Homo sapiens: one gene and its partners. The protein of the gene in region 6 purifies or fractionates together with the protein of the main gene of each other region. This does not show direct contact. Each region holds a gene or a part of one and is shown on either strand. Other genes may lie near its edges. The genes, in order: UTP25, ANKRD44, CTR9, YBX3, ANKRD28 and PXK.

Region 1 (4,446 bases), on a different chromosome or scaffold from region 6:
GACCCTATTGGCCATCTGACCAGCCTTCCCAAGCCCACGTGAGCAGATCTAGGGTCTCAAGATTACAGAAGGCCTGGGGTGAGGGAGCAAGAGTTGGAAGTTCTTTATAGTTGTCTGAAGAGCCTCATTGTCCAACTGCAGGGGCCTGAGGTGCCCAAAGCTTCGTGGAAAAGTAATGTCAGTGGAATGCTCAGAAGTGGCTCTTTTCAGGGCACGGCTTCTGAGGAGCGTGGGGCCACCACAGCTAGCCCTCCCTCCGTCTAGCCATCCTCTCCTTCCAGTCCCTTTCCCATCTTTTCTCTCAAAGGAGCATGGTAGTGATCTTCATTACCAAATTTCTACTCCACACTTATTTTAAAAAGCTTTTCTGAAAGCCTGGCTACATAGAATTCTAAACAGATTTCAGTCAACTTTTAATTAGAGTCAATGAATGGGGAGTAAATACACAGATAATCCAAAATTGATGTAAGCATTGGAAGGGGAAAGAGGGAACGCTTCTTTCCCTCTGGGCTTGGTCATTTCCTCCCAAGCAAACCCCGCGACGTTCAGCCGTCTTCCTCCTATGCCACGTGCTCTCACCAGAACTGCAGCAAAACTGCATTTTATGTCCTGTGTCTAAAGCTAAACACATGTTCCTGTCTACTTTTGCTTTGTTCCTGTTTCCCTTCTGTGAGGACCTTCCCCTCCTCAGATGTGGGGAGTTGCCGCCTCCACTTGCATTACATGTATTTCAGAGTAGGTCCTAGGCTCCCCTTACACCTCTGGTCACGTTGCCATTATTCCTATGGTAGATAAAGGGGATGAGAAAGAACAGAGCTCCAGGCCTTTTTCAAACAAACTGGTTTTCTCAGTATAGCCCTATGCTCAAAAGGAGTGAGGACAGGTATGTGACTGCCATAAGGAGCTGTTTGCTTTGCACAGAGAAATCTAATCTTTCTCCTGCTGGGCAGCTCAGTACAGATGTCCCCTCACTGCTGGAAGAAACACCTGCCCTTGCTTGTTCTCCTGATGGCCCCTCACAGTCAGGTGTGGGATGGCACATTTCTAGGTGCTCCTCGCCGAGCTGTCATGGGCTTCAGTCTTGGGCCTCTGCAGCTGGCTGTGACCAGGTGGAAACTGTAGCCTTGGCTGACCCAGAGAAGGAAAGGAGGCAGTCTGCCGCTTGGCTGATTTAGGAGTTGTGCTGAATTCCTGCCCATCTGTTCTCCCAGCTGAGCCAAGGCCAAAGCTGTCTACCTTTTGCCAACCTAAGGAATGACACAGAGCATGGAGCACCATCACTGAAACATCTGCCCCAGTGCCCTGCCACCTTCGTCCTCACTGACCTCTGCAGCCTCTCTCATCTGCCAGTTTTGATTCCGCAAGGAGAGGTGGCCCTGGGCTCACAGCTGGTGTTTGTCCACAGATGTTCATGGGTTTCTTTGTGTTCTCTCATTTTTTCAAAGCTGGGTGTTGGGACCAACATCACCACTGACATTCTGTGGCTCTAAACAAGTCCTCACGACCACTTCTCAGTTTTCTCATCTTTATGAAGTATGGAGTAATCCCCACTAGCCTTATAGAGGGACTGTGTGAGAAGGGAAGAGACTGCTATTGTTTGCCCTATATCCACCTACTTCCCTAGTTCCAGAACGCTGGACTTTAATGAGATAACAAAGTACCTAGTAAAAACACTGCATCATTTTCCATCCCCCACCCCTTGCAGTAAAATGTGGCCCATGAGACAGAAGCACTAACTACTGAGCAGGACTTCTAGGGGAGTTCTTTAAAACTCAGAGGAGCACCACTTTTACCTTCTGCTCTTCCCTTTTTCCTGCCTGGAACGCAGAAGTGATGGCTGAAGCTCCTGAGGCTATAAGCTCTGTACGTAGGAGAGTGGTGAAGAAAGGAGCTTGGTTCTGCAAGGATGTTGTAGAGCTGCCATACCAGTCCTGCATGGTATTCCTGTGCACTACTGTTACGTGAACACACAAACACCTAATTTGTTTAAGCCATTAGGCCAGGCCTCTATTAGCCATTCCTGACTGATACAGAAGACAAAAATGGCATCACAGACTCCTGAACTCCAAAGACACTGCCTATTCTTTCGTCTGTTCTTGGCAAGCACCAACATTGAGACTGTACTTCAGGGTTGATGCTGGCCATTTGGTGGCGTGAGGAGTGGGCACTCACATGTCTCTGCTAGCAGTTCTGACGTGTCCATTCCACACTGGATCCATAGAACGAGGGAACACAAGTGTCTTCTCATAAGATTTATAGAAACAGTGATCGTTGCAGAAAAATAATTAGCAAGAGAACAGACTTCAGCTCTCTGAAGGCTGATGACCACCTGTTTCTCATCTCTTCTAGTGTATGTCAAAGCTAAATTAGGTCAAATAGGAAATAAGTCAGAATCCCCAATTCGATAGAAACTTACAGGTCTTGTGATCTAATCTGCCACTTGATCCGTGAATTACCTATAGGTCATCCCTAAGAGGTGGCCTCCAGCTTCTGCTTGAATTCCTTCAAGGATGGGGTGCTCATTGTGGCTTTTCTAATCATCTCTGATTGTTAGAAACACTGTGAAACTTTTATCCATCAGTCCTGTTTCTGAAGCTGTACGGTACAAATTTTTTTTTTCCCCACTTAAGGCTCAACTATTGGAATACATCTACCATGTCTCCTATGAAACTTGCTTCTCCAGGCCAATCATCCTTACTTCCTTAAACTTTTTTTTTTCCTGAAAAGTTATTCTTTTAATCTTATTAAAAAAGCAACCCATGCCCATTCCACAAATACAAGTGAAATAGTGAAAAACAAAAATCAAACTACATCTATTTGGTGATCATTATTAATGTCTTATGTTTCCTCCCAGATTGTTTTCTGCATGAATAATAACCAACAATGTGTGTGTATGTATATATATGCTTTTGCATTAAAAGGTGGTTTTGAAGGTAACATTTTTTGGAGTACTGATTAAGCGCCAGCAACTCTTCCAAGCTCTTTGCATGTATTACATCAGTTAATCCCTCACACCCGTTTAAGGTAAGCATCCTTATTTTTCCCGATTTCCACACAGGCAGCACAATCCTGAAAACCTACACTGTTTTTACTAGATAATTACTTCTCTAAAAACAAAACAATAAAAGCACTCAATAAATAGTAGTTATTATTACCCTTTTTAATGAAGCAATCCTAATTGTTGAACTCTTAAAAGGACTAAGGGATGGCTCACACCTGTAAATCCAGTGTGTCCGGAATTGGTAGGTTCTTGGTCTCACTAACTTCAAGAATAAAGCCGCGGACCCTCGCCGTGAGTGTCACAGGTCTTAAAGGCTGCGTGTCTAGAGTCTGTTCCTTCTGAAGTTCGGATGCGTTTGGACTTTCTTCCTTCTGGTGGGTTCCTGGTCTCACTGGCTTCAAGAGTGAAGCTGCAGACCTTCGCGGTGTTACAGCTCACAAAAGCAGCATGCACCCAAAGAAGTGAAGAACAAAGATTCCACACCAGGACAGAGTACGAGGAGATGCCACTGCTGGCTCCAGCAGCCTGCTTTTATTCTCTTATCTGGCCCCACCCACATCCTGCTGATTGGTCCATTTTACAGAGAGCCGATTGGTCTGTTTTACAAAGAGCTGATTGGTCCGTTTTGACAGGGTGTTGATTGGTGCGTTTACAATCCCTAAGCTAGACACAGAAGTTCTCCAAGTCCCCACTAGATTAGCTAGATACGGAGTGCTGATTGGTGTATTCACAATCCCTTAGCTAGACATAAAGAGTCTCCAAGTCCCCATCAGATTAGCTAGATACAGAGTGCCCATTAGTGCATCCACAAACCCTGAGGTAGACACAGGGTGCTGATTGGTGTGTTCACAAACCTTGAGCTAGATACAGAGTGCTGATTGGTGTATTTACAATCCCTTAGCTAGACATAAAGGTTCTCCAAGTTCCCCACTAGACTCAGGAGCCCAGCTGGCTTCACCTAGTGGATACCGCAGCGGGGCCGCAGGTGGAGCTGCCTGCCAGTCCTGCAGCGTGTGCCTGCACTCCTCAGCCCTTGGGCAGTAGATGGGACCAGGCGCCCTGGAGCAGGGGCCGGAGCTCCTCGGGGAGGCTTGGGCAGCGCAGGAGCCCACGGCGGGGGTGGGGGAGGCGGCTCAGGCATGGCCAGCTGTAAGTTCCGAGTCCTGCCCCGCGAGGAGGCAGCTGAGGCCCAAGAATTTGAGCGCAGCGCCAGCGGGCCGGCACTGCTGGGGGACCCAGGGCACCCTCCGCAGCTCCTGGCCTGGGTGCTAAGCCCCTCACTGCCCGGGGCGGCGGCGCCAGCCGGCCGCTGCAAGTGCGGGGCCAGCTGAGCCCACGCCCACCCGGAACTCGCGCTGGCCCGCAAGTGCGGCACGCAGCCCCGGTTCCCGCCCGCGCCGCTCCCTCCACACCTCCCGGCAAGCTGAGCGAGCCAGCTCCGGCCT
Region 2 (4,899 bases), on a different chromosome or scaffold from region 6:
ATTTGGTTCCATCTCCAGATACGTAAAAAGAACCTAAGGCGTTTTAAGATTCAAGAACTTCTGAAAATGTCCAGTCTATCTTGGGACAAAGTCAGAAGGAGATGGGGTGGGGAAGTGGCCTGGGTGGGGTGGGGTGGTGAACAACGATGGTTTCTGTGTAGCTTTAGGTCCAGGAAGTAAGTGTGTGGTCTTTCTTGCCTTATATAGTCTTACCTTTTCTGTTTGAGACTCAATTCTTAGAAGTCAGTTCTTAACCTCACAGATTAACTTTTAAAACCATTTGCTTAGACCACTACTAGAAGAGTTTTGCTCCATCATTGTGGGCAGGGAGCCGCCCGCCTGCTTGGAATCCCTGCCTTAGAGTTTGTACAGGAGTACCTTGCTCTCCATTCAGCTTCTAGTAAAACAACCACTTCTTAATTTCTCCCTCCTTTTTTTTTTTTGTGTGTGTGTGTGTGTGTGTCAGGGTCTCACTCTGACTCGATAGTATGATCATGGCTCACTACAGCCTTGGCCTGCCAGGCTCAAACATCCTCCCACTTCAGCCTCCCCAGTAGCTGGGACTATGGGCGCGTGTGCCACCACACCTGGCTAATTTTTGTATTTTTTGTAGACACAGAGTTTCGCCATGTTGCCCAGGCTGGTCTCAAACTCTTGGGCTCAAACAGTCCACCTGCCTCAGCCTCCCAAAGTGCTGGGATTACAGGCATGAGCCACTGTGCCTGGCACCTCATCTGTTGAATGCCCTATTTGTGAAGTGAATCTTGATTTTTGCTAGGCCTCTTGGATTTTTTACTGTTGATAACCTGAAACACAAATTGTCTGGATTTGTCTTTAAATGTGGCAAAAGTCAGGGGTGACAGATGATGACATTTTCTCTCCAGCTAAAGCTGGGTGCAGGAGCTTGCTAGGTGAAGCAGACACTACTTCAGCAGTCAGTCCTGTAGTGACCTCTCAATCTTGTAAGAGAAGGAAAATGTTTTTTCCTAACTCTTTTTTTTTCAGGAGAGTAAAAAGAAAAAGGGAGAGACCAGTGTAATTTTTAGTCTTTTTTTTTTTTTTTTCACTGTAAAAAAGGAACTGGGAGCTATCACTACAAACAAACAAACTTGGCATTTAGCACTTCTGCATTTGTAACTTTTGTAACAGTGTCCCTTCTGTTTTCCTCTTCACAGGGCACACATAATTTTTATTGCAGCCTTAGGGGGCACTAACCATCCTGGTTTGTGCAGATTGACTGGTGTCCCAGCATATGGGGCTAAAACCGGGAAAATTCCAGGCAAACTGGGAGGAACTGGTTACCCTGTGTAACATAGAACATCCTCAACTATGTCATTAATATAATAATGTAATTAGTTCCTTGTATGTGGACATTAGGAGTTTTATATTTTTTGGTAAAGTGAGATAATTTTAAGTTTGGGAAAGAAAATTTTGTTAAATACAGATCTAAGGCATTTGACTCAAAGATAGCCATGAAACCTTTTTGAAAATTGATTTGATATTGACTGTTTTAGGGTGTTCTTTATGTCATATAGTTAAAGGCACTGTAGTCATTTTAAGTGTGTGGTCGTATCTTCAGCCTGGATCTCTACCCGAAATTTATTTTCAGAGTTATGAAGCTAGGATGGTAAGTTCTGTTGCATGTTTAAAGTGTCCACTATTCTTACCTGCATTTGTTAATGATGGCAGAACACTACTTTCATCTCGGAGGCTGCCTGCAGACAAACTGTTTCAGCAGGTGGCCTTTTTGGAGCTTCCTGCCTGGAGGCCTTCTGGTTTGGTGTTCCCTTGCCAAGTCCTAGTTCACACTTGAGTCACCTACCTTCTTGCCAAAGGCAGTGGCTGGCAGCGGTGGCAGTGGCAAGAGACTAGAAATCCTGTGTAACTTTGGGAGCAGGATTTCTAGCCCATAGTGTGGGGCCTTGGGACGTGTTACATATTTTACTGGGCTGCCCTTGTTCTTCCATGGCTCCCTAGAGCACTGGTGTTAAAGCAAACAGTATGCTGTAGTCCTGTCTTCAGCATAGAAGAAGGGAAAAGAAAGGCTTTATTTAGAACCTTTTCTGGTTGTTTCAGGACCCAATCACATGGTTTTGAGAGTGCACTTGAGGCTGGTGTTTCATGGCAGAGACCTAATAATGTCACACATTTATTGTGCTCTTATTGTATACTGGGCCTTTGCAGTGAATCATGTCTTAATCCTCATAGCCACACTAGGAGGTAGGTGGTGGTGTGATTTCTATTTTATGGATGAGAAAACAGGAATAGAGAGGCTAATTGACCGGTTTAGGGTCATACGCCCAGTAAGTGATCTAGCACACTGTCCTACCCTGGCAGTCTGATTGCACAGGTGGGGCTCTGACCACAAGGCTATACTTTTCATAGTTGAAAGGGCAGTGCAGCCATGGGATTAATGGGTGTCTGATCTTGTTTACAGAGAAGCCATTGGATGAACAGCGTTCCCTGAACTCCTTCTGCCTCTTGGGCCAGACCCATTTCTGTACATAGTAAGGAGCTGCTCTGAGGCCTCTGCCCCTGCCTGGCTTATACCTGGCTTTTCCCATTAGCCTCTCCATTTCCTCACCCCGGTGAATGATGTGTTGGTAGTTCAGTGATTTTTTTCATATATATATATATATATATATATAAAACGAACTGCGGTCATTATAGGAAAAGCAGAAAGCTAGATGAGCAAACCAAAAAATTTTAAAACCATCTGAAGCCTGTATACTCAAGAGATAACTATTCTTGACATTTTGATATGTTTCCTTCTAGTCTTCTGTCTGGGTAGCCAGTTAAAATTTTTAAACTTTTCGTGTGATAATATCATTACCTTTCACTTGTGCACATAGCTGATATCTGTGTTCTCTACACCAATGACTTTTCCAAATAAACTTATTCTTCTCTTACATATATGATTGGCTCTTTAGCCAACGCCAGCACATAAGCTCTAGCTCTGGATTAATGGAACTAACTTTTTTCTTTTTCTTTTCTTTCTTTCTTTCTTTTTTAAGATTTCAACTTTTTACTTCCTCTTTTGCTGTAAACAGAGAGCAAATACGAACTCAAAAAGGCACAAATTGTTTGTACCAGAAACAGAAATGAAAGATTCTTTAAAAAGATTTGTATTTCTACAAGATAATGTGAATTTTTATAGGCTAAAGTATAGCACGAAATAATTTAAAAACAGGCAGAGCTACAGAGATCTGATAATTTTGTGATTTCCAAATTTGTTTAAGCTATGACACTCCTTTTTTCCCCCGAAGAAATTTCATATTGAAGCTCAATATATAAAAAAGATTGGCTTGGACAGTGGTCCCTGAGTCCCTCTTGAAAACTGGTTGGGTTTAGTATTATTTGAAAGCCCCTTTGTATGAGAAAACTCCTGGTGATTGGTTAAGTGTTTTTTGTTGTTGTTTTTGTTTTTTTTCCTGACACATCATGTATGAAACAACATTTATAAATGTTTGTGAATGATTAGGAACTACACAGAACTAGGATGACTATATCATTTTTATCCGTTTGAGAATCATAGGTGATACTACTCAATATGAAGCCACAAATAGACGTGAGCCAGGACTGTCCTGGGTAAACCTGGATATGTGGTCATCATATATTCACATAGACTCCATGTTTGCTCACCACAGGCTTGACAGTGACAGTAAACTAGTTTGACTAGCAGACTACTCTGTCTCTTTTGAGTCAGGTCTACAGTGGTGCAGGTATTACAAAGATTGTTTTATGACCTTGTGCAGAGTTGGGAAACAGCTTCCATGTCACACATGAGTTCTGATCGGTCCAGGACTTGCAGGTGTAATGTGATAGAAACATTCTGACTCTTGCAGTCAAGGATCCGAGAAAGTGTGATTGATTACCAGTGTTTGCTATGGGTACACGGGAAGGGAGAAGTGACATATGTTGTACATTAGCCAACCCTTGGCAAGACATGTTAACCTCTGTAGGCTTCAGGTTTCTCTTTGTAAAATGAAGAGGTTGGACTGGATGCCTTTATGGTGCCTCAGCTCTGCCCTCTCCCTTCTGTGACTTGGTGCCTGTAATGGAGACCGATGCTCTTCACATGGTTTGTGTTATAGCATTTCTTACAAATGTGCCTATGAAGGGTGTATTTGCAGATGAGCTCTAATAAGGCTTTCCAGGTAACAAAGTCAAACAGCTTCAAGTTCCAGAGAAGGATTTTAACCCATGTCAATGACTTAGGACTAATTCCTATTCTCCACCCTACTTCAATTCATAGATAATCTAAGATTACCCATTTTATTTATTCTGTATTTTTATTTTTTTGGGACAGAGTCTCGCTCTGTTTCCCAGGCTGGAGTATAGTGGTGCAATCTTGGCTCATTGCAACCCCCGCCGACCCCCTCCTGGGGTTCAAGTGATTCTTGAGCCTCAGACTCCCGGGTAGCTGGGATTACAGGCTTGCACCACTACGCCCAGCTAATTTTTGTATTTTTAGTAGAGATGAGGTTTCACCATGTCGGCCAGGCTGGTCTCAAACTCCTGGCCTCATGTGATCTGCCTGCCTCAGCCTCCCAAAGTGCTGGGATTACAGGGGTAAGCCACCACACCTGGCCTAAGATTGCCCTCTTTATAGATTACTCCTTTTTAACCTTTTAACCAATATATTATTTGGCTTTGGCTGCTTTCAGAGGTCGGGAATGCAGGTATTTGCCCTTATCAGTGTTTATGTTTGTAAATATGTTGGTAGCCTAAGAGGTTGAAATTAATGATTCATGAATCCAGCTTGTAATTATGATATTCATAATTTTTAAGGATCTTTTCACTTGCCTCCTCTTTTGAAAACTTAAAATTTATATTCTATAAAGTGAGCTAAGCAAATAAATATATAGTCCACTTTGGGCTGTTTCAGGGATTACTAAG
Region 3 (4,899 bases), on a different chromosome or scaffold from region 6:
GGGGTTAGATCAAGTCCCGGCATGGCTGCTAACTAGCTATGTGACCTTAGACAAATGATCTAACTTCTGAGCATATGTCCTCATTTAAAATATAGAGATGTTAGCATCTACCTCATAGAGTGGTTGTACAGATTAGAGAATATGTGTATGAAATTCCTTTCATGGTATGTGACCAATAGTCAGTGGTTAATAAGTGGTGGATATTCCACATAGAGACAGAGTCTCTCTATTTTGCCCAGGCTAGACTCAAACTCCTGGGCTCAAGCCATCCTGCCACTACAGCATCCCAAGTAGTAGATTACAGGTACATACCACCACACCTAGTGGATATTTCTTTTATTATTTATAAGTCAAACAGATGCCTAGAGAAGTTGTTAAACAGGCCCAAATCACAGATAATTTTTGGTAGATCTAGAACCAGAACCCAAGTTTTCTATTTAGAATTCTTCATATCTTTCACTATTGTTTTCTCTCTTAGGCTCTACTTATCTGAAAATTTTAGTTAGAAATCAACTAGATAAGCAGCAGATTGGGAACATTGTGAATGATTCCAGTTTTTTAAACAGTTTTATTAAAGTCTAATGGATTTATAATAAACTGCACATATTTGACATTTACCATTTGATAAGTTTTATCATCTGTATATACCTGTGAAACCATCACCACAATCAAGATTAATGAATACATTCATCACCTTCTGAAAGTGTCCTCTGTACCACTCCCCACAAGTCCCCCACCCCACCCCTAATCCCTGTGCCAGACAACCACTGGTCTGCTTTTTGACACTAGAGATTGTTTTACATTTTCTAGAGTTTTATATAAATGGAATCACACAATATGTACTCTTTTTTTGGTCTGATTTCTTTCATTCAGCATAATTATTTTGAGATTTATCCATGTTGTAGCATGTATCAGTAGTTCATTCCTTTTCATTGTAGGATAGTATCCATTTTATGGATACACCACAGCTTGTTTATCCATTCACCTGTTAATCAACATTTTGATTGTTTCCAGTTTTTTGTTATTACAAATAAAGCTGCTGTAAACATTTGTGTACAACTTTTTATATGGACATATGCTTTAGTGATTCTAATTTGTTTCATTACCTTATAGCTGGAATACTACAAGCAAGGAAAAACAGAAGAGTTTGTAAAATTGTTGGAAGCAGCACGTATAGATGGCAATTTGGACTATAGAGACCATGAAAAAGACCAGATGACTTGCTTGGATACATTGGCAGCGTATTATGTACAACAGGCTCGGAAAGAAAAGAATAAGGACAATAAAAAGGATCTTATTACACAGGCCACCTTGTTGTATACAATGGCCGATAAAATTATTATGTATGATCAGGTAAAAATAAAGTCAAATTTCTTTCCATTTATGAAGGGAGAAAAGCACATGAAAGCAAAATGTGTGTGATAGCAGATTTTTTGAAAGAGTTTTTCTTCAAGTAACATGGTTGATAGAGTCAAAAAGAAGAAAGGTTCCTCATTAAAATCGGAATGCTTTGGTTTTTGTACTGTTTAAGTAATATGGACAAATGTAGTACATAAAACTTGCTCCAGTAATTTTATTATCTCCAGGTGAATTTCAAGGATATTTTAAGGAATTTAAATTTTTCTTTTGGTTGTTGTTATTGGCACAGAAGACTTACATTTCAGGATAATTTCTTATTTTGTAATTAAGAATTGCTTGTTAGTAGCTTAAGCACGTTACATTTGATAGGGGAATTTGCACTGTGCTCCACCTCCTTCCTATTTGGTTTTCACTTTAGTGTTACATGTTCATGGTATATAGGGGTAAAATCTAAGATAATACATTACTTCATAGAACCATTTGTTGGGAAGAGCCTGCTTCTGCCTACTTGAGGGTGACAAAATGGATCAAGCTGATGCACAGTTTCATTTTGTACTCAATCAGTCTCCAAATAATATTCCAGCCCTTCTTGGTAAGTGGTCTTTGGCAACATGTTAGGAAACAGTTGTTTTCAGCATATGCCTAGAATATATCTCTTGGTAATAGCTCCTTAATAACTCAGCTAGACAGCAAAGTAGAAGAGCTTTATGTTGTTACAAATGAAATTACCTACAACAAATATTGTTGAAATTGTAGAAATAAAATATATACCAGTTAAGAATAATTTATTATTTAGGCCAGGCATGGTATAATCTCAGCACTTTGAGACCCTGTCTCGTTATACCTGTAATCCCAGCGCTTTGAGAGACTGAGGCAGGAGGATCACTTGAGGCCAGGAGTTCAAGACGAGCTGGGGCAACATAGCAAGACCCCATCTCTACAAAAAATAATTTTTTCAAAAAAGAGTAATTGGTTATACACTTCTGAAGAGCCAATAAACAATCTCTACTTAGACAACTTAAAGTTATTTCAATTATTACTTTATAACATTTTTTAAACTTTTATTGAAGTTCAGTGGTACAAGTGCAGGTTTGTTACATAGGTAAACTTGGTCATGGGGGTTTGTTGTGCAGGTTATTTCATCACTTAGGTATTAAGCCTAGTACCTATTAGTTATTTTTCCTGATCCTCTTCCTCCTCCCACCCTCCACCCTCCAAAAGGCCCCAGTATGTGATGTTCCCCTCTGTGTCCATGTGTTCTCATCATTTAGCTCCCACTTATAAGTGAGAACAGGCAGTATTCAGTTTTCTGTTCCTATGTTAGTTTGCTAACTTTATAACATTTAACATAAAAATAGGAAGTTTTATTTTTAGACATAAATTAGTATACTTTTATGAAAAACAAATTTTTAATATGAAATTTTGTTCTGTGTTTTCAAGTATTTCTCACTCAGAGATGTATTTAACTTAGATAAGTTAGTGTAAAACATAATAGACTTGTAGCCTTTAATCAGACACTGTGTTTATTTTTAAAAATCATTACAGGTAAAGCTTGCATTTCCTTCAACAAGAAGGATTACAGAGGAGCTCTTGCTTACTATAAGAAAGCATTGCGTACTAACCCAGGATGTCCAGGTAAGAGAAAAATTTTATTTTATGTCTAAACTGTGTATTACCCAGCTTAAAGCATTGAGGATTTGTCAGTTGCTTATGAAGTTATGAAAAGATATTGTTGGATTATAGAAATGTCAGAATCAAGTTTTTTTTTTGATGCTATGTTTGAGTCAAAAGCTGGATAGTAAGGCCAGGTGCAATGGCTCATGCCAATAATCCCAGCACTTTGGTAGGCAGAGGCAGGACTACTTGAGCCCAGGAGTTTGAGACCAGCCTGGGCAACGTAGTAAGACCCTGTCTCTACAAAAAATAAAAAAGTTACATGAGCATGGTGGCACACACCTGTGGTCCCAGCTCCTTAGGAGGCTCAGGCTGGAGGATCGCTTGAGTCTGGGAGGTTGAGGCTGCAGTGAGCCATCATTGTGCCATTGCATTCCAGCCTGGGCAACAGAACAAGACCTTGTCTCAAGGGGAAAAAAAAATAGATAGGGTCTGGCTGCACTGGTTCACACCTGTAATCTCAGCACTTTGGGAGGGTGAGGTAGAAGGATTGCTTGAGCCCAGGAATTTGAGACTAGCCTTTGCAACAAAGGGAGACCCCCATCTCTACAGAAAATCAGCCGCACATGGTAGTGCTTGTGGTCGCACCTACACAAGAGGCTAGGCAGGAAGATCACTTGAGCCTAGGCATTTGAGGCTGCAGTGAGCCATGTTCATGCCACGGCACTCCAGCCTGGGCAACAGAGCCAAGACCCTGTCTCAAGAAAAAAAAAGTCTGGATAGTAGATTATAATATAATCTTTTTGCCCTATACTATTTTTCTTTCCAAAATGTCATTCATGTAGCAAATTTTTACTGAGTACCAACTATGTGGCAGGCAGTGTTCTAAACCCTGAGAATGTAGCAATTAACCAAAGAGACAAAAGTTCCTGCCCTCATGGAGTCCAGTTTTCAGTGGGCAAGATAAATAGTAAAGTATGTATGATGTGTAAGCTACCAGTAAGAGCCAAGGAGAAGAATAAAGCAGAAAAAGGGTATGAGAAGCATCAGGAATTGCTTAGAAAGGATGACCAAGGAAACTCATCAGAGATAGTGACATTTGTGTGAAGACCTAAAAAACAACTAGCAGCCATGCAGATATATAGGAGAAGACCACTCCTAGAGAGAGAGCATAGAAGGTACAAAGGTCCAGAGGAAAGAGAGTGCCTGGTAAGTTTAAGGAAGAGTAAGGAGGCCATTGTTTCTGGAATAGAGAGAGAAAGAGTTGGGGGGAAAGTAGTAAGAAATGGGGTCAAAGCTATAACCAGGGACTGACTAATCACGTAGGGCATCACAGATTATTGTAAGGACTTTAGTTTTTACATCGACAGAGATGGGAAGCCATTGGAGGGCCTTGGGCAGCAGAGTGACGTGATCTGACCTATATTTAAAAGGTTCGTTTGAGCTTTGGGGTTGAGACTAGAGTGGGGCTCAAGGGGAGGGGGTCAAGGACAGAAGTAGGGAGAGCAGGGAGAAGGCATCTGCAGACAGGCAGGTCAGAGGTGATTGTGGCTCACACTAGGGAGGTAATAGTGGAGTTGGTACAAGTGGTCAGATTCTACATGTATTTTGAAAGGAGAGCTGATGGAGTACCTATGATGTATAAGACAGAGAGGAAGAGTCAAAGATAACTCCCTTGCACAAGCAATTGGAAAAGTAGAGTTATATTTTACTATATTTGGGAAATAGTTTAAGTGGAACTAGTTTTAGACCTGAAAAGTTTGAAATACCTTTTAGACATATAAGTTGTCAAATTAAGCAGTTCAGCCTTAAAGCTTTTAGAGCTTTATCCTGAGCCTTGAGAAGAATGTGGCTATACAACCTGAGTCACGTGGCATGCAGTTGCAATTTCTGCCTTTTTTTTTCTGTAAACAATTAAGATCAAAT
Region 4 (4,899 bases), on a different chromosome or scaffold from region 6:
CTACATTCCCTGATAATACATTAAAAGGTTAGTGAAGATGCTATTCTTCATTAAACATCTACACCTAAATATCTGCTTATGAATAGGTGCTGCTCTCTCTTGTTCCATCAATGAAGGCAGAAAATAATTCCTGCCATGCATTTCCATTTCTTTGGCTGGTATCTCTAAACAGTTAAAGGGGCTTGCGTTTCTATGGAACTAGGTCAACCTTATTTTATAAAGCGATTAAGCATGTGTAATCCAGCCCGTCCCCTAACTCTGAGTAGGAGGGAAAAGAAATAGTGAGCCAACAGAGCAGAGACCTCACCCATAGAGGAAAAAAGGCAGTTCAGGACAGGCACGCAGCATGAACATTCAGCCATTCCAAAAACAGCCCCTCCCTGCCGGCTCGCTCCCTTTTTCCTGTTAAACTGGGCAAGCCTCAACACATTGAGGTGACTCACCACACAACCTCACGGGGGCTGGAATCGGGTCATATACTCACAGGCTAATAAAGCCAGCCACCAATACAGCAACTTCTGAGGACCTTGACTCTAGCAGTCTTCAGAATTCTTACCCTAAAAGGTCTATTAACCTCAAACCTCCAAGTATTATAAACAACACTATTATGACCCTAAAAGTCACTGTATCTGAACAAAATAAATCTACTCAAATTATCTAAATGCAACTGAGATATATCCAGTCAAGTAGAAATATAAACAATAGAAACCACAGCTAGATACCACTATCTCCAACTCCTACGGTCACTCCAATACACACACAAACCTAAACAGAAGGAAACAAAAACACAGAAAATCAGATGTATTCTGGATTTCTGCACTGCAAGAGAATGGGCTGGCATTAGTACCTGCTGCTCTATCTTCCTTATTGTTATACTCTGAGAACGCATATTTCAGACAATTCACTGAAAACTAAATAAACAAAAAGAACACTAAGGATAGTATTCCTTCTCTTAACCTATTTTATAAAGGAAGTCTAGGACATATTAATAACAGAATAAATAACATCCTAGGCTAATAAAGCAAAGAAAAACTGAGGCACCTATAGCAGAGAAGCTCCATATCTTACCCATTTCCTCTATTTCCTGCAAATCTAAGGGAATTTGCAGCTTTTGACCTGGACACGTCCTAACATGCCTCATTTAACAAGAGTGAGGGCTACCCTGGGAACTGGAAGTTTTCTCATCTTACTATCTGCTTCTCTGCGCTATTTACTTCAATTGAGAGCTGCTCTGACAGAGGAGCTTTAACCAATACCTACCCAGGCAGAAGCCAGATTGGCTCCAGGCAAACACTAAGGAGGAACCACATCAGGAGAACAGGATGCTAAAAGGGAAACAGACTTTTCTTTTTTTTGCTAAGGACTCAAAGGCTTTAAAAATTAGAAAGTGGTCTAACCAAATATCACTTTATACAACTGCAAAAATAAAACTATTTGAAAACAGTTAATATGATGGGGTAGAAGAACTTATTTGCCAATCTTAAAATGTGGAACTGAACTCCTGTTGCAAAATAAATCACAGAAAGAGTTTAGATTAAAATAATAATCCATAGGACTTACTTTTGGGAAAGGGCTGACAGAAGATTACACACCCTCTCCTCACATAGCAAATGTAGTATTTATAATCCCTCTTACCTGATGTACAAATACATCTTCTTTGGTGTCATTTCTGTTGAAAGACAAAAAGCTCACAATTAAAGGTAGTACGTATGTGGAAAAACTTAAAAGAACCTATGTGTTATGAATTTAACTCCCAAGTCCTCAAAACACAACATATATTTTCACTTATTTTCTACACTCAATTCAGACACCTAAAATCCTTGTTAAACATTTCTAACTCCACAGGCCACCCACCTTCCTCCTCCACATTGCCACAGTGCTTAGATCCAAGCTCACAGACTCAACATACAGAAACATCCCGTTCCTCTGTCTCTTTCTGAATCACATGGTGTGTAATCAGAGCCTCAGATTTTCCTCCCAGCAAAAGCAAAGCAAGACAGTTAAAAGGACAGGGCACAGCTGTGAACTAGGCTCTCCTTACACTGAAACTTAAAACAGCCCCCCACCCCCACCCCACCAAAGGAGACAAGAAATTGGAGGACTTTAAGAAGGGGTGGGAAAGCAAAGAAAATGCCGATATCATGTGAAAACCTCATAATACTCCCAGCATCTTGTAGTTATGTTCTCATTCCTGTACGGTTAAAAGTTACCACAGTTTACAGTTTCTACATAGGACTGGACCAGAAGTGAGTTAAAGATCCAGCTCAATGACTCACTAGTTGGGTGACCTTAGGAAAGCTGCTTAACCAGTGTAAGACTCCGTTTCTCCATCTGTGAAATTATGGATATGGTCTCATTTATCCTAAGGCCCTTCCCATTTCTGATTTTATCTCCCCCTCCTTTTCTTCCTTAATGACTAGATTTTATGAAATAAGTTATTTATTAGTGTCCTGGAAATGTATTTTAAGTAATATTTAACAACCAGTAGCTTAGAAATGAGAATATTTACAGTGCTTAGAAACCTAAAAAATTTATATAAGCCATTAATGAAGGCTAAGGGATTTATAACTCCTGGTGCCACAATGTAAGTATAAACTTAAAACATGCAAATATACACACACACATACCGATTTATAAATCCATATCCATTTCTGACGTTGAACCATTTGACAGTGCCAAGGACTTTGGTGGCTAAAATAGGATTAAGCAGATAAATTAGTATCTGACCTACAGAGAGATATAGCTCATATCACTAAGATCTTGATAACATTAGACAAAGCCTAAACATACCTAAAGAAACCATTAAAAGCTTAATTCCAAAATACTTTAGAAAAAGAAAATGGAGCAAGCCAAGATCTCATAAGGAAATACTTTTCAGAAGACTAAACCTTTCTTCCTTATTCAACTTTTCAGGAAACTCGCAAGATAAGGAGTGGTTATAAGTCTATACAATTCTGTAATCATTAAAATTGAGAAACACTGAAGGAAAAAAAGAATGTTCAAGATGAATGTTCCAAGTTTTAACCTAGACAAATTTTATAAGTTCAAAATAGGAGCTACAATAAAAGAGTGAAAGACCTTAACACATCACTTTCATACTTGGAAATATTAGGCAAACTTTAATGAGAAACAAGGTGGCTCCTTGTTAACAGGCAATCTACAAAGACGTAAAGCAACTTGTCCAGTCGCCAAGTGGGAGCTCATCAGAGGAGTCAAGAATAATTATAGAACTGCTGCTGTCTCAATCCAGTTCTGTACTTACCACTCTGAGACGTGATATAACAGGTCTTTTCAAATCACATGATGAATTTGGGCTTGTTTCTTTGTTTACCTTGCTCTCTACAGTTTTGCGAATCAAACTTAAGCATTTTTCCATAAAATCCCCCTCTTTACCATAATGGTTGTCTCTACCTCATGAGCAGGACCACTTCTCTACAATGCCTGATTTTAGCAGAATTGAGAGAAGGAATCTAAACAAAATAAAACTTCATGTAACTTGTATTTTGTAGGTTTATATTTATCTCAACTATTTCAAATATGATCTTTGGAATCAATTATGAATGACAAATTCAGTACTTCTAGGAAATGCCCCTGTCTCAATTCAGGAAGTGCAAAAAGCAATTATAAAGACTCAATGAAACAGGAAACCTGATAATAGATTACCTTAAAGAAAAAATAAAGAAAAAAGCCTCAGTAGAGAATGAAAGTAATTATTAACATCAATCCATACTGTCTTTTCATAAGATACAAAGTTTATAATTTCCAAGGATAAACAATAAGGCTTCACTTTTAAATTCAAAACTAAAATAGTAATTAAGACTTGCTCTGTTGTAGGCAGGGGTAGTTCTGAAGTTTGCTAGACTGATACACTTGGGAAAATACTTTAGCTCTCTTTGTTGGGGGAAAGAAAATCCAAAACAAAAAAAACATGTCTTTATATCTCCAAAGTTATGCAGTCTACACTGATGAGGCATTCTCCAGCTTTAATTCCAAAGATCTCTCATCTCTCCAAAGGAGAGATCAAACCCAGGCCATCTTACGTTTGAGGCCACTCTGATTGGAGCAGCAAGGCAAAGGAGAAAAAAACAGTTGATGTTTTCGATGCAAATGTACACAGTAGAGGCCTGTTTTTGATACATTATATGCATTTAAGTCAGGCAATATTCCAAATAATATGCGTTTAGTGCCTCTTTTCATTTGCCCAAAAAATTAATTACCTGGGAAAATATAAAGACTGGAACTGTTTTTAATATCTAGCATTGTTGAAGGAATAATCTTGATTAAAATGACAATACTAATAATAAAGGAAAAAGATGATAAATAATTCTCAGGTCTAACCTCAATCCAAGCTGAAGGTTATTTTTACTCTCCAATGTAGTTTAAAAAAGTTTCGTAATTCCGCAAATACTTCTCCAAGGACTTCTTATGATCAAATTCATTCCCACGTCTTGCTTTAAACCATAAACCCACTTCATATACACTAAGGGGAAGGGTTGGGGAGGAAGACCATAGATTTCCATAACATTTATCAGAAGGAAAATTTTTTTGCACTCATGAAAACTATTTTTCCTGGCCTATGTGCTTATAAACTCAAGTGAAGGCCCATTTGCAAATACTAGAACATATCCATTTTAGTCAGCATTGTGCCTAGTACATCTTAGGCATCTATGTGTTTGCTTGGCAAAGGAAAGGGGATGGCAGGACACACTAGACAGAGACAAACAGTGTTGAGGTGTCACGTAGAAAGGGCTGTCCTTCATTTTTAGAGAGACGCAGTAAGAGTGGAAAGATAAAAGGCATCAGACTCATCACCAGGGATCTGCAGAGGCAGTTGCTTGAGGAAATTAACCTTCATTTATCTGTTTCCTTCATCTTTAAAGATAGTATCTGCTTTCCCAA
Region 5 (4,899 bases), about 43 Mb from region 6:
TGGTTAAAAGAGATTTTCTTTGGCCTCCTACAGGCTCACAGTCACAGTCATCGCTTTTATAGGTAGACTCATAAAAGGTCACGTAGGGAAGCATAAAGCTACTTTGAAGTTATAGATGTTAAAAATGCAGTTTGGCTTATGAAATGCCACTAATTAAAATAATTTATGCAATGAAGCATGTTGAGATATTTTTAGATTTGATCATCTTAGAAAACTCAAGTACATTATATACAGTGCAAGCATCAGTGTTGTCAAAGTTCAAGCTTCAGGCTTTAGTAGAGAAATTAGAGGTTTTTAAAATTTGTTTTCAATTTCAGTGTAGCTTCAAGATTAATGTTAATTATGACAGCAGATCTACAAAGCTGTAGTTCACAATTCTAATAACCTTCCCTCAAAATGCAGAGAAAATATAAGTTGTCTCTTTATATAAATACCCATTTGCTAAAAATAAATAAGTATAATATCTGTTGTAAAATCAGACTGCCTTACCAGGAAGTTGAGATTTCCTATCTTTCTATAATATGCTGTTTCATAGTTCTTTCACTGGGAGCTGTTCTGACAAAGTTATCAAGTTAAAGCAAAAGAGGAAAAAGCTGAATCTTGTAAAATTATAACTTCATTAAATGTTTCCACAAGTATTTCTGAGATACAATATTTTGATTTTCATATTAGTCCTTATGCCAAAGTTGGGAGTTGTATTCTTTTGCCGTTAGAACATTTTGGGTTCTTGAGGTTTGTCCTGTTATACTGTTGGTTATCCTTCAGCTGAGTACTGATAGCACCATAAAAACTTGAATAGTTAAATCTGTTGCTCATTGAACAAGCTAGTTTAGTCTCTTTGTTTTTTACTACCTTAAATCCTTAACCAAAACAGTTTTGAAAACTATAAAACCTTTGGGGTTTAACTTCTCTTTTTCCCATTTCTACTCGCTAAGGCAAGTAGAAATGAGTGTAGTGAAGTGGCCAGAGACTAGTACTCATACTAGAACAAAGAAGATACTGTATTTTGCCATTGATGTTTGATTTGTTTCTGTAATGTGACTTGACATTTTACAAGTATAAGGAAAACCCAAAATATCTAATATAGTGGGAAAATATCTACAATTGTGAGTTGTGTTTCTGTAAAAAAGTCAGTGAGATAAAACTGTTCAGAAGCAAAGACTTACTGCTTGGTTTTTAAAAAAATATATCCCTGAAGATTAACCATTGGAAAAATCACACAGTGAGATATTTTTCCTCAGGAAGAGCATTTAGTTGTAAATGTACTGCTGTAACTGTCCTTTGGAGAGTTGCTTTCTATTACAGTGTTTGTTATCAGATCTATATGTAGAACATTTTCCCTAAAGTGAGTTCCTACTCTATCACTGCTAAATTTAGACTCTAAGCACGTTTTGTGCAAGAGACAGAATTTTGCAAGAACTGCATGCCTGGTTGCCATTTAAAGATCATAACAAATGTGTCTGATTTTCAGCCTGTAGCAAAATTGTGGTGATGCTGAATTTGAGCTGGAAGGAATTTAATGTGTGTTGGCTATATGCAATAAGCGACTATATAGACAGCCTAAAATTAATACCATATTTATAGCCAAAAGCCCGTTTTATAATTTGGCATTCTGAAAGTAGAATATGTAAAATGGTTTTTACTTTAACTAGTAATTATTGTACAGCTGGAAAGAAAAGTGGAAGCATGCCAACAGAACAGAAAACAACCTCTTAAAATTAAAATGAAATGATGGCCAAGTTTTAGAAAAACACTGGCTGTAGATACTAAAAGTTCACAATTTCAGTTTATATAGTCATTCAATCACAGAACTTAAGAATACTTATTATTCCTTTAAAAAATGTGTTCATTTTTATGAAGCTCTAAACATCCTCAGACTAGCCTCTGAAACTCAGGAGGACCCAGTTTACCATCCTATCTATCTTTCATAAATGATGATAGAAAGTTATGAGATTGTCTGCTTGATATCACCCAGTAATGATTTCTGGAGGTCACAAAGGGGCCCCACTGTTCCCTTTTCTCAGTCTGTACTCAGATGGTGAGTGGTTCTCAAACCCTTTGGTCTCAGGAACTATGGATTGATACTGACTGTATTAGAAATTGTAATTGAGAAATTTTTAAATACTTACTGATTTATTTAAAAATAATGTCTATTACATGTTAACATAAATAATCTTTTTTTATGAAAACTATTTTCCAAAAGTATTTTCTTTTTAGTGAGAAGAGTAGTACATCTCTTCATAGCTAATTTAAGAGAATAGTTGGGTTCTCATCTGTGTTTTTATTCATATTTTTTTTGCGTCACCCCAGGGTTCCCTAGGCCACACCTTAAGAACCCATATACCTGGAGAATGAGGGGCTCTTAAGTCAACAATGGACAACTTTCCATTGCTGTATCTTAGTAATGAGTTAACATTCAGAACGATGGCATTAAAGGAGTTTCTCAACCTCAGCACTATGACGTTTTGGGCCAGATGATTGTTGCAAGGGACTCTCCAGTGCATTGCAAGATGTTTAGCAGCATCATTGGTTTCTACCCACTAGATGCCAGTTGCACTGCCCCACCTTCAGTTGTGATAAACAAAAATGTCTGTAGGCATTGCCACATACAATATCTGCTGATGGGCAAAATCCACTTGAAAACTACTAGATTAGAGAAAAGAACTGACAAAAGATGGAACACAATTACAGGTTTTTCTAAAAATTACTTTTCCACAATTATAGGGTAAAGTTTAAGCTGATTAAGTTTGAGTAATTTAAAAAGAAAAGAAAATATAACATCACTTTGGTAGGCAAATATTAAACCATGAAAATGTATAAAGAGGCCATGTAAGAATCTTATTCCTAAAGTAGATCCCAAATGACTAATGAAATAAAATAAGCAACATTTTATTTGTAGTAATTAGGGTATTAAATTAAAACCCTGGCTCTGGAATTAGGGTAAGAAAATTTGAAATTTGGATTTTTCTGTTTTTGAAGTTACTGTTAAAAACTATGGACCAGATATTGATGAACAGTCAATACAGTCAGCCCTCCATATCCATGGGTCCCCCATCGGTGAATTCAACTGAATGTCCATCAGAAATATAGTTAGGCTGAACATGTACAGACTTTTTTTTTGTCATTATTCCCTAAACAATACAACAACTATTTATATAGCATTTACATTGAATTAAGTTGTAAGTAATCTAGAGATGACTTAAAGTATATGAGAAGATGTGCATAGGTTATACACAAATAAACCATTTTGTACAAGGGACCTGTATAAGGGACTATGGAGTTTTGCTGTCAGTGGGGAGTCCTGGACCCAATCCCCCAAGAATACCAAGGCTGGATACTTCTCCTTTACCACAGCAATATCACTTTGGTAGGAAATTGTCCTACAAAAATACTTCCTAAAATAAAAACAAAATGTTGGCCGTGGTGGCTTATGCCTGTAATCCCAGCATTTTAGGAGGCTGAGGCAGGCAGATCACTTGAGCTCTGGGATTCAAGACCAGCCTGAGCAACATGGCAAAACTTCATCTCTACAAAATATCAAAAAATTAGCCAGGTGTGGTAGCCTTGCACCTGTTGTCTTAGCAACTCAGGAGGCTGAGGTGGGAGGATCACTTGAGCCCAGGAGGTTGAGACTGCAGAGAGTCATGATCATGCCACTGCACTTCAACTTGGGCAACAGAGCAAGACCCTGTCTCAAAAAATTGTTTTAATAAAATAAAAAAATACCAGAATGTTTCATTACAGCGTTGTTGATAATATCATGAAGAATTTTTTTAAACTAGCAATCACTTTAAAATCCATAATTAGATTAAATAATTTATGATATACTTTGATACTGTGAAGCTCTTCAGAACATTAAAGAATAAGATTTTAGCCGGGCATGGTGGCTCACACCTGTAATCCCAGCACTTTGGGAGACTGAGGCAGGTGGATCACCTGAGATCAGGAGTTTGAGATCAGCCTGACCAACATGGTGAAACCCCGTGTCTACTAAAAATACGAAAAAAGCTAGCTGGGCATGGTGGTGGGCGCCTGTAGTCCAGCTACTTGGGAGGCTGAGACAGGAGAATCACTTGAACCCAGGAGGCAGAGGTTGCAGTGAGCCAAGATCGCGCCACTGCACTCCAGGCTGGGCAACAGAGTGAGACTCCATCTAAAATAATAATAATAATATTTCATATATGCTATTATGGAAGGATATGTGTAGTTAATATTAAGTAAAAGGCAAGTTGCGGAATTAAACATCCCATTGCCATTAAGAAAAAAATAAAAAAATAGCACAGTCATTTCTCGTTTGCTGTTGAGGATTGGTTTCCAGGACCCCTTGTGAATACCAAAACCAACAGGCGCTCAAGTCCCTTATAGAAAATGGGATAGTATTTGCATATAACCTATGCACATTCTCTGCTATACTTTAAATCATCTCTGGATTACTTATAATAACCAATGTAATGTAAATGTTATGTAAATAATTGGTATGCTGTATTTAGGGTATATGACAAGAAAAAAAGTCTGCTCTGTTTTTTTTTTCCCCCAAATATTTTTAATTTGGGGTTGGTTGAATTGATGGATGCAGAACCCACGGATACAGAGAGCCAACTGTATGTATTTTGTGCGTGCAGTTGTATATGCCTAGAAATTTTCAGGAACTACTGGTGGCTTAACAGCTACCAATGGTTATATTCCAGAGAGGGGATCTGGGAGATGGGATGAGGGAGAGACTTTTACATTTTTCCTTTAAACACTTACATGTACCTGTGATTTTTGCCAGTATCTCCTTTGAATTTTAATACCTGGTTCTTTACACCTATTTAGGTCACGAGACATGTGTAGAACTGCTTTTAGAACAGGAAGTTTTCCAGAAAACGGAAGGAAATGCTTTTAGTCCATTGCATTGTG
Region 6 (4,899 bases):
TTGGGTAGGAGGATAAAAGGTAATTCTCCCTCTCCTTTCTATATTCCAAAAGAACATGTAATACTATTAGGATGAAAATAAATTTAGAAAACAAAAAAAAGAAAGAAAACCAAGGGAGGGTTTAGAAGACTGTGTCAGTGAGAGAGGTGCTTTCCTCTGTTCTGTTTTGCCAGTTAGAGGAATTCTGACAATAATAGCTTCTTTGGATCTGAAGTAGGAGAGAAAAAAACATTTAAATTTAATGTCTTCTTCACTGAAGCATCTTAGCAAATTTCTTCAGCCTTGTCAATAAATATATTCTCCTCCAACCCTGACAGTCTGGCCTTTAGGATTCAGGAGTTAGTACTAGACCTCGCTCTTCCCCTAAGCCAGAGAGCCTATGCAGCAAAGATAGTATGATTTTAAAATCCAACATTAGTTCTTGTATGTACACTGACTTTCTGGAAAGATATACAGGAGACTGGTAATGTTGGTTTCCTCCATGGAAGTAGGTGGGAGACTTCACTGTGTATGTGCCCTTTTATACCTTTGGGATTTTAAACCATGTGACTGTATTACCTACTTACAGCTTTTTTTTTAATTTGAAATTTTTACAGAATAATAAAGACAAAAAGTTCAACATGATCTGGGGGTCTTATCTTCCAGGACCAGACTCCTCATGATTTAAAAAGCTAATAAATTAAGAAATGGCCCGGGCGTGGTGGCTCACGCTTGTAATCCCAACACTTTGGGAGGCTGAGACAGGTGGATCATTTGAGGTCAGGAGTTCCAGACCAGCCTGGCCAACATGGCAAAACCCCATCTCTACTAAAAATACAGAAATTAGCCAGGCTTAGTGGCAGGTGCCTGTAATCCCAGCTACTCGGGAGGCTGAAGCAGGAGAATTGCTTAGACCTGGGAGGCAGAGGTTGCAGTGAACTGAGAGCACACCACTGCACTCCAGCCTGGGCGACAGAGTGAGACTCTGTCTCAAAAAAAAAAAAAAGGAGAAATGATGGAGGCAGAGGTTGCAGTGAGCTGAGATCATGCCGGTACACTCCAGCCTGGGGAACAGAGTGAGATTCTGTCTCAAAAAAAAAAAAGAAATGATAGGCTCAGAAACAAACTGGGCTGTTGTTTGGAATGTCTCCCAACAGGGAAAGCTGGGAAAGTTTAATCTTACAAAATTCAGAACATAAATCTCTCACAAAGAAGATATCTCTGAAGTTATAATAACTGGTTGAATTTATGTATGTTCCAATAAGCTTTATATAATTTTTTAAATATTTTTTTTTCTTTTGAGACGGAGTCTCGCTCTTGTCACCCAGGCTGGAGTACAATGGCATGATCTCGGCTCACTGCAACCTCCGCCTCCTGGGTTCAAGCAATTCTGCTTCAGCCTCCTGAGCAGCTGGGATTACAAGCATGCGCCACCACGCCTGGCTAATTTTTGTATTTTTAGTAGAGATGGGGTTTCATTATGTTGGTCAGGCTGGTCTCGACCTCAGGTGAACCACTCACCTCGGCCTCCCAAAGTGCTGGGATTACAGGTGTGAGCCACTGCACCCGGCCAATTTTTTTAATTTTTAATTTTAATTTTTTTTTTTTTGAAGTAGGCGATTTTTTGTTGCCAGGCTGGAGTGCAGTGGTGCAATGACGGGGCTCAGTGCAGCCTCAAACTCCTGAGCTCAGGTAATCCTCCTGCCTCAGCCTGTTGAGTAGCTGGGACAACAGGCGCGTACCACCACACCCTGCTAATTTTTTAATTTTTTTGTAGAGACAGAGTCTTACTGTTGCCCAGGCTAGTCTTGAACTCTTGGCCCCAAGTGGCCTCCCAAAGTGCTGGGATTACAGGTGTGAGCCACTGTGCCTGACCTAATTTTTAAATTTTTAATTGTGATAAAAAATACAATATAAAATTTACTCTCTGAACCATTTTTAAGTGTACAGTTCAGTGGTGTTAACTATCTTCACATTATTGTATAACAGGTCTCTAGAGCTTACAACCTGAAACTCTATACCCATAGAATAATGACTCCCCATTTCTCCCTCCCCACAGCTCCGGGCAATCACTATTCTACTTTGTTTCTGTGATCTTGACTACTCTAGAAACCTTATATAAGTATTTGTCCTTTTGTGGATCATTTATTTCACTTAGCATAATGTCCTCAAGGTTCATCTATATTGTAACATGTAACAAGATTTCCTTCTATTTTTAAGGTTGAGTAATATTCCATTGTATGTATATGCCACACTTTTTTTATCCATTCATCTGTTGATGAACATTTAGGCTGCTTTTACCTCTTGTCTGTCATGAATAATGCTGCAGTGAACATGGGTGTGCAAATATCTTTTTGAGATCCTGCTTTTGATTCTTTTGGATGTATACCCAGAAGTGGAATTCCTCATATGGTAGTTCCATTTTGTAGTTTTTTGAGTCACCTCCATACTGTTTTCCATAGCAGCTGTACTACTCTACATTTCCACCAGCAGTGTACAAGGGCTTCAGTTTCTCCACATTCTCACCAACATTTATTTTATTATTTTAATAGTGGCTATCCTAATGGCTGTGAGGTGATGTCTCATTGTGGTTTTGATTTACATTTCTCTAATGACTAAAGACATTGAGTGTCTTTTCATATGTTTTTTGGCCATTTGTATATTTTCTTTAGAGAAATGTCTATGTCTTTTGCCTCTTTTTAATTGGGTTACTTATATTTTGTTGTTGAGTTGTTGGAGTTCCTTTATATATTCTGGATATTAACCCCTTATCAGACCTATGATTTGCAAATATTGTGTCCCATTTCTTGAGTTGTCTTTTACTCCGTTTTTCTTTGTTGCACCAATGTTTTATTTATTTATTTATTTATTTATTTTTCTTTTTTTCTTTTGGAGACAGGGGCTCGTTCTGTTGCTTAGGCTGGAGTGCAGCAGCACAATCTCAGCTCACTGCAACCTCCGCCCTCCCAGGTTCAAGTGATCTTCCTGCCTCAGCCTCCCAAGTAGATTACAGGCGTGCACCACCACACCTGGCTAATTTTTGTATCTTTAGTAGAGACGGGGTTTTGCCATGTTGGCCAGGCTGGTCTTGAACTTCTGACCTCAAGTGATCCACCCACCTCAGCCTCCCAAAGTATTGGGATTACAGGCGTGAGCCACCTTGCCCGGCTGCACCAAAGTTTTAAATTTTGATGAAGTTTAATTTTTTTTCTTTTATTGCCTGTGCTTTTGGTGTCATATCCAAGAAATCACTGCCAAATCCAGTGTCAAGAAGCTTTTCCCCTGTGTCTTTTCTTTTAGGAGTTTTATAGTTTTAGGTCTTATGTTTAGGTTTTGAATCCATTTTGAGTTAATTTTTGTTTATGGTGTAAGGTAAGGGTCCAACTTCACTCTTTTGTATGTGGATATCCAATTTTCCCAGCACTGTTATTGAATACACTGTCCTTTCCCCCATTGTATGTTCTTGGAACCCTTGTCAAAGATTATTTGACCATATCCACAAGCATTTATTTCTGGGCTCTCTCTTCTTCTTTTCCATTGGTCTGTGTATCTGCCTGCATGTCAGTACCACACTGTTTTAATTACTGTAGCTATGTAATAGGTTTCAAAATCAGGAAATGTGAGGCCTTCAACTTTATTTTTCTTTTTCAGATTGTTTTGGCAATTTACAGCCCTTGAGGATTACTTGCATTACTTGAAACATATCATGTTTATTTATGTTTTAGTTTTATGTGTTCATTGCTAAAAAATGCTAGAGAAGTGAGTGTGTTAGGGATACCAAAAGTGGCTGGGGTAGGATTTGAATGGACAGCTTTAACTGATTTTATTCCAAATGACTCTTTTTTTTTTTTTTTGAGATGGAGTCTCGCTCTGTCACCCAGGCTGGAGTGCAGTGGCGTGATCTCGGCTCTCTGCAAGCTCCGCCTCCCGGGTTCACGCCATTCTCCTGCCTCAGCCTCCTGAGTAGCTGGGACTACAGGCGCCCACCACCACGCCCGGCTAATTTTTTGTATTTTTAGTAGAGATGGGATTTCACCGTGTTAGCCAGGATGGTCTCCATCTCCTGACCGCGTGATCCGCCCGCCTTGGCCTCTCAAAGTCCTGGGATTACAGGCATGAGCCACCGCGCCCGGCCGAAATGACTCTTGATAACCACCTGCTCCTTCATTTACTCCAGGACTTGGAAGTATCTCCAGCCACCTTTTTCAATAGATGATGTACTTTTCTCTCCTTTCAGATCCCTACAAAGTTAAAAGAGGCATTGAGAATTGCCAAAGAATGTATAGAGAAGAGACTAATTGAGGAACAGAAACAGGTAAATTGATAACGGTTCCTCTTTGCCTTTTAGTGTCCCCATCCTCTGCCGTGGTTTTTATAGTGATTGACCTTTGACTGTTCCCTCTGCAAATATTTTAAGCATACTTACTCTCAGCCAGCCTTTAGGCTAAATGCTTCCCTGCAGAGCTGAATACTTGACAGTCCTGCCCTCAGTCCTGCCTAGTCTATGTGGGAAACAAACATGTCCAGGAAGGGCAGTCTGGGTTTCTGATCAGAGCATGCCGGCCGGTGATAGTTGCGGGCATGCATGGTCCATGCTGTCTCACCACATTCTTCTTCTGTAAAAGAGGGAAAGGCAGGAAGGCATTAGGGGCATGAGAAAGGACCTCTTCCTTTGGCATACTCCTCTACCTGGCATCCAGACCCGAGCCAGGAAGTAGACAGCCTGAGCAAGGAAAGATTTTCTTTTATCCCAATAAAATGTGGTTTGCCAAAACATGTTGGAGAAGATTTTCATTAGGAAGCTGCCTTATGTGGGATATGCTTACATCTTATGGTCTTTTAAAGATTCACCAGCATCGAAGACTGACAAGAGCTCAGTCCCACCATGGATCTGAGGAGGAAAGAAAAAAAAGAAAGATT

What was found.
Region 1: the proteins of PXK (region 6) and UTP25 purify together in Homo sapiens (affinity purification with mass spectrometry; one large-scale study listed by BioGRID and IntAct). This does not show direct contact.
Region 2: the proteins of PXK (region 6) and ANKRD44 purify together in Homo sapiens (affinity purification with mass spectrometry; one large-scale study listed by BioGRID and IntAct). This does not show direct contact.
Region 3: the proteins of PXK (region 6) and CTR9 purify together in Homo sapiens (affinity purification with mass spectrometry; one large-scale study listed by BioGRID and IntAct). This does not show direct contact.
Region 4: the proteins of PXK (region 6) and YBX3 purify together in Homo sapiens (affinity purification with mass spectrometry; one large-scale study listed by BioGRID and IntAct). This does not show direct contact.
Region 5: the proteins of PXK (region 6) and ANKRD28 purify together in Homo sapiens (affinity purification with mass spectrometry; one large-scale study listed by BioGRID and IntAct). This does not show direct contact.

Annotation. Positions count from the first base shown.
Region 1 is NC_000001.11:209,854,629-209,859,074, forward strand, and holds the end of UTP25 (U3 small nucleolar RNA-associated protein 25 homolog), read left to right. Parts: 3' UTR 1-2,937; downstream 2,938-4,446. UniProt on the Homo sapiens protein: Component of the ribosomal small subunit processome for the biogenesis of ribosomes, functions in pre-ribosomal RNA (pre-rRNA) processing. Essential for embryonic development in part through the regulation of p53 pathway.
Region 2 is NC_000002.12:197,303,717-197,308,615, reverse strand, and holds part of ANKRD44 (serine/threonine-protein phosphatase 6 regulatory ankyrin repeat subunit B), read left to right. Parts: intron 1-4,899. UniProt on the Homo sapiens protein: Putative regulatory subunit of protein phosphatase 6 (PP6) that may be involved in the recognition of phosphoprotein substrates.
Region 3 is NC_000011.10:10,753,845-10,758,743, forward strand, and holds part of CTR9 (RNA polymerase-associated protein CTR9 homolog), read left to right. Parts: intron 1-1,113; coding exon 1,114-1,353; intron 1,354-1,833; coding exon 1,834-1,951; intron 1,952-2,904; coding exon 2,905-2,994; intron 2,995-4,899. UniProt on the Homo sapiens protein: Component of the PAF1 complex (PAF1C) which has multiple functions during transcription by RNA polymerase II and is implicated in regulation of development and maintenance of embryonic stem cell pluripotency.
Region 4 is NC_000012.12:10,716,453-10,721,351, forward strand, and holds part of YBX3 (Y-box-binding protein 3), read right to left. Parts: intron 2,692-4,899; coding exon 2,628-2,691; intron 1,670-2,627; coding exon 1,636-1,669; intron 1-1,635. UniProt on the Homo sapiens protein: Binds to the GM-CSF promoter. Seems to act as a repressor. Also binds to full-length mRNA and to short RNA sequences containing the consensus site 5'-UCCAUCA-3'. May have a role in translation repression.
Region 5 is NC_000003.12:15,679,480-15,684,378, reverse strand, and holds part of ANKRD28 (serine/threonine-protein phosphatase 6 regulatory ankyrin repeat subunit A), read left to right. Parts: intron 1-4,815; coding exon 4,816-4,899. UniProt on the Homo sapiens protein: Regulatory subunit of protein phosphatase 6 (PP6) that may be involved in the recognition of phosphoprotein substrates. Involved in the PP6-mediated dephosphorylation of NFKBIE opposing its degradation in response to TNF-alpha.
Region 6 is NC_000003.12:58,404,708-58,409,606, forward strand, and holds part of PXK (PX domain-containing protein kinase-like protein), read left to right. Parts: intron 1-4,216; coding exon 4,217-4,294; intron 4,295-4,824; coding exon 4,825-4,899. UniProt on the Homo sapiens protein: Binds to and modulates brain Na,K-ATPase subunits ATP1B1 and ATP1B3 and may thereby participate in the regulation of electrical excitability and synaptic transmission. May not display kinase activity.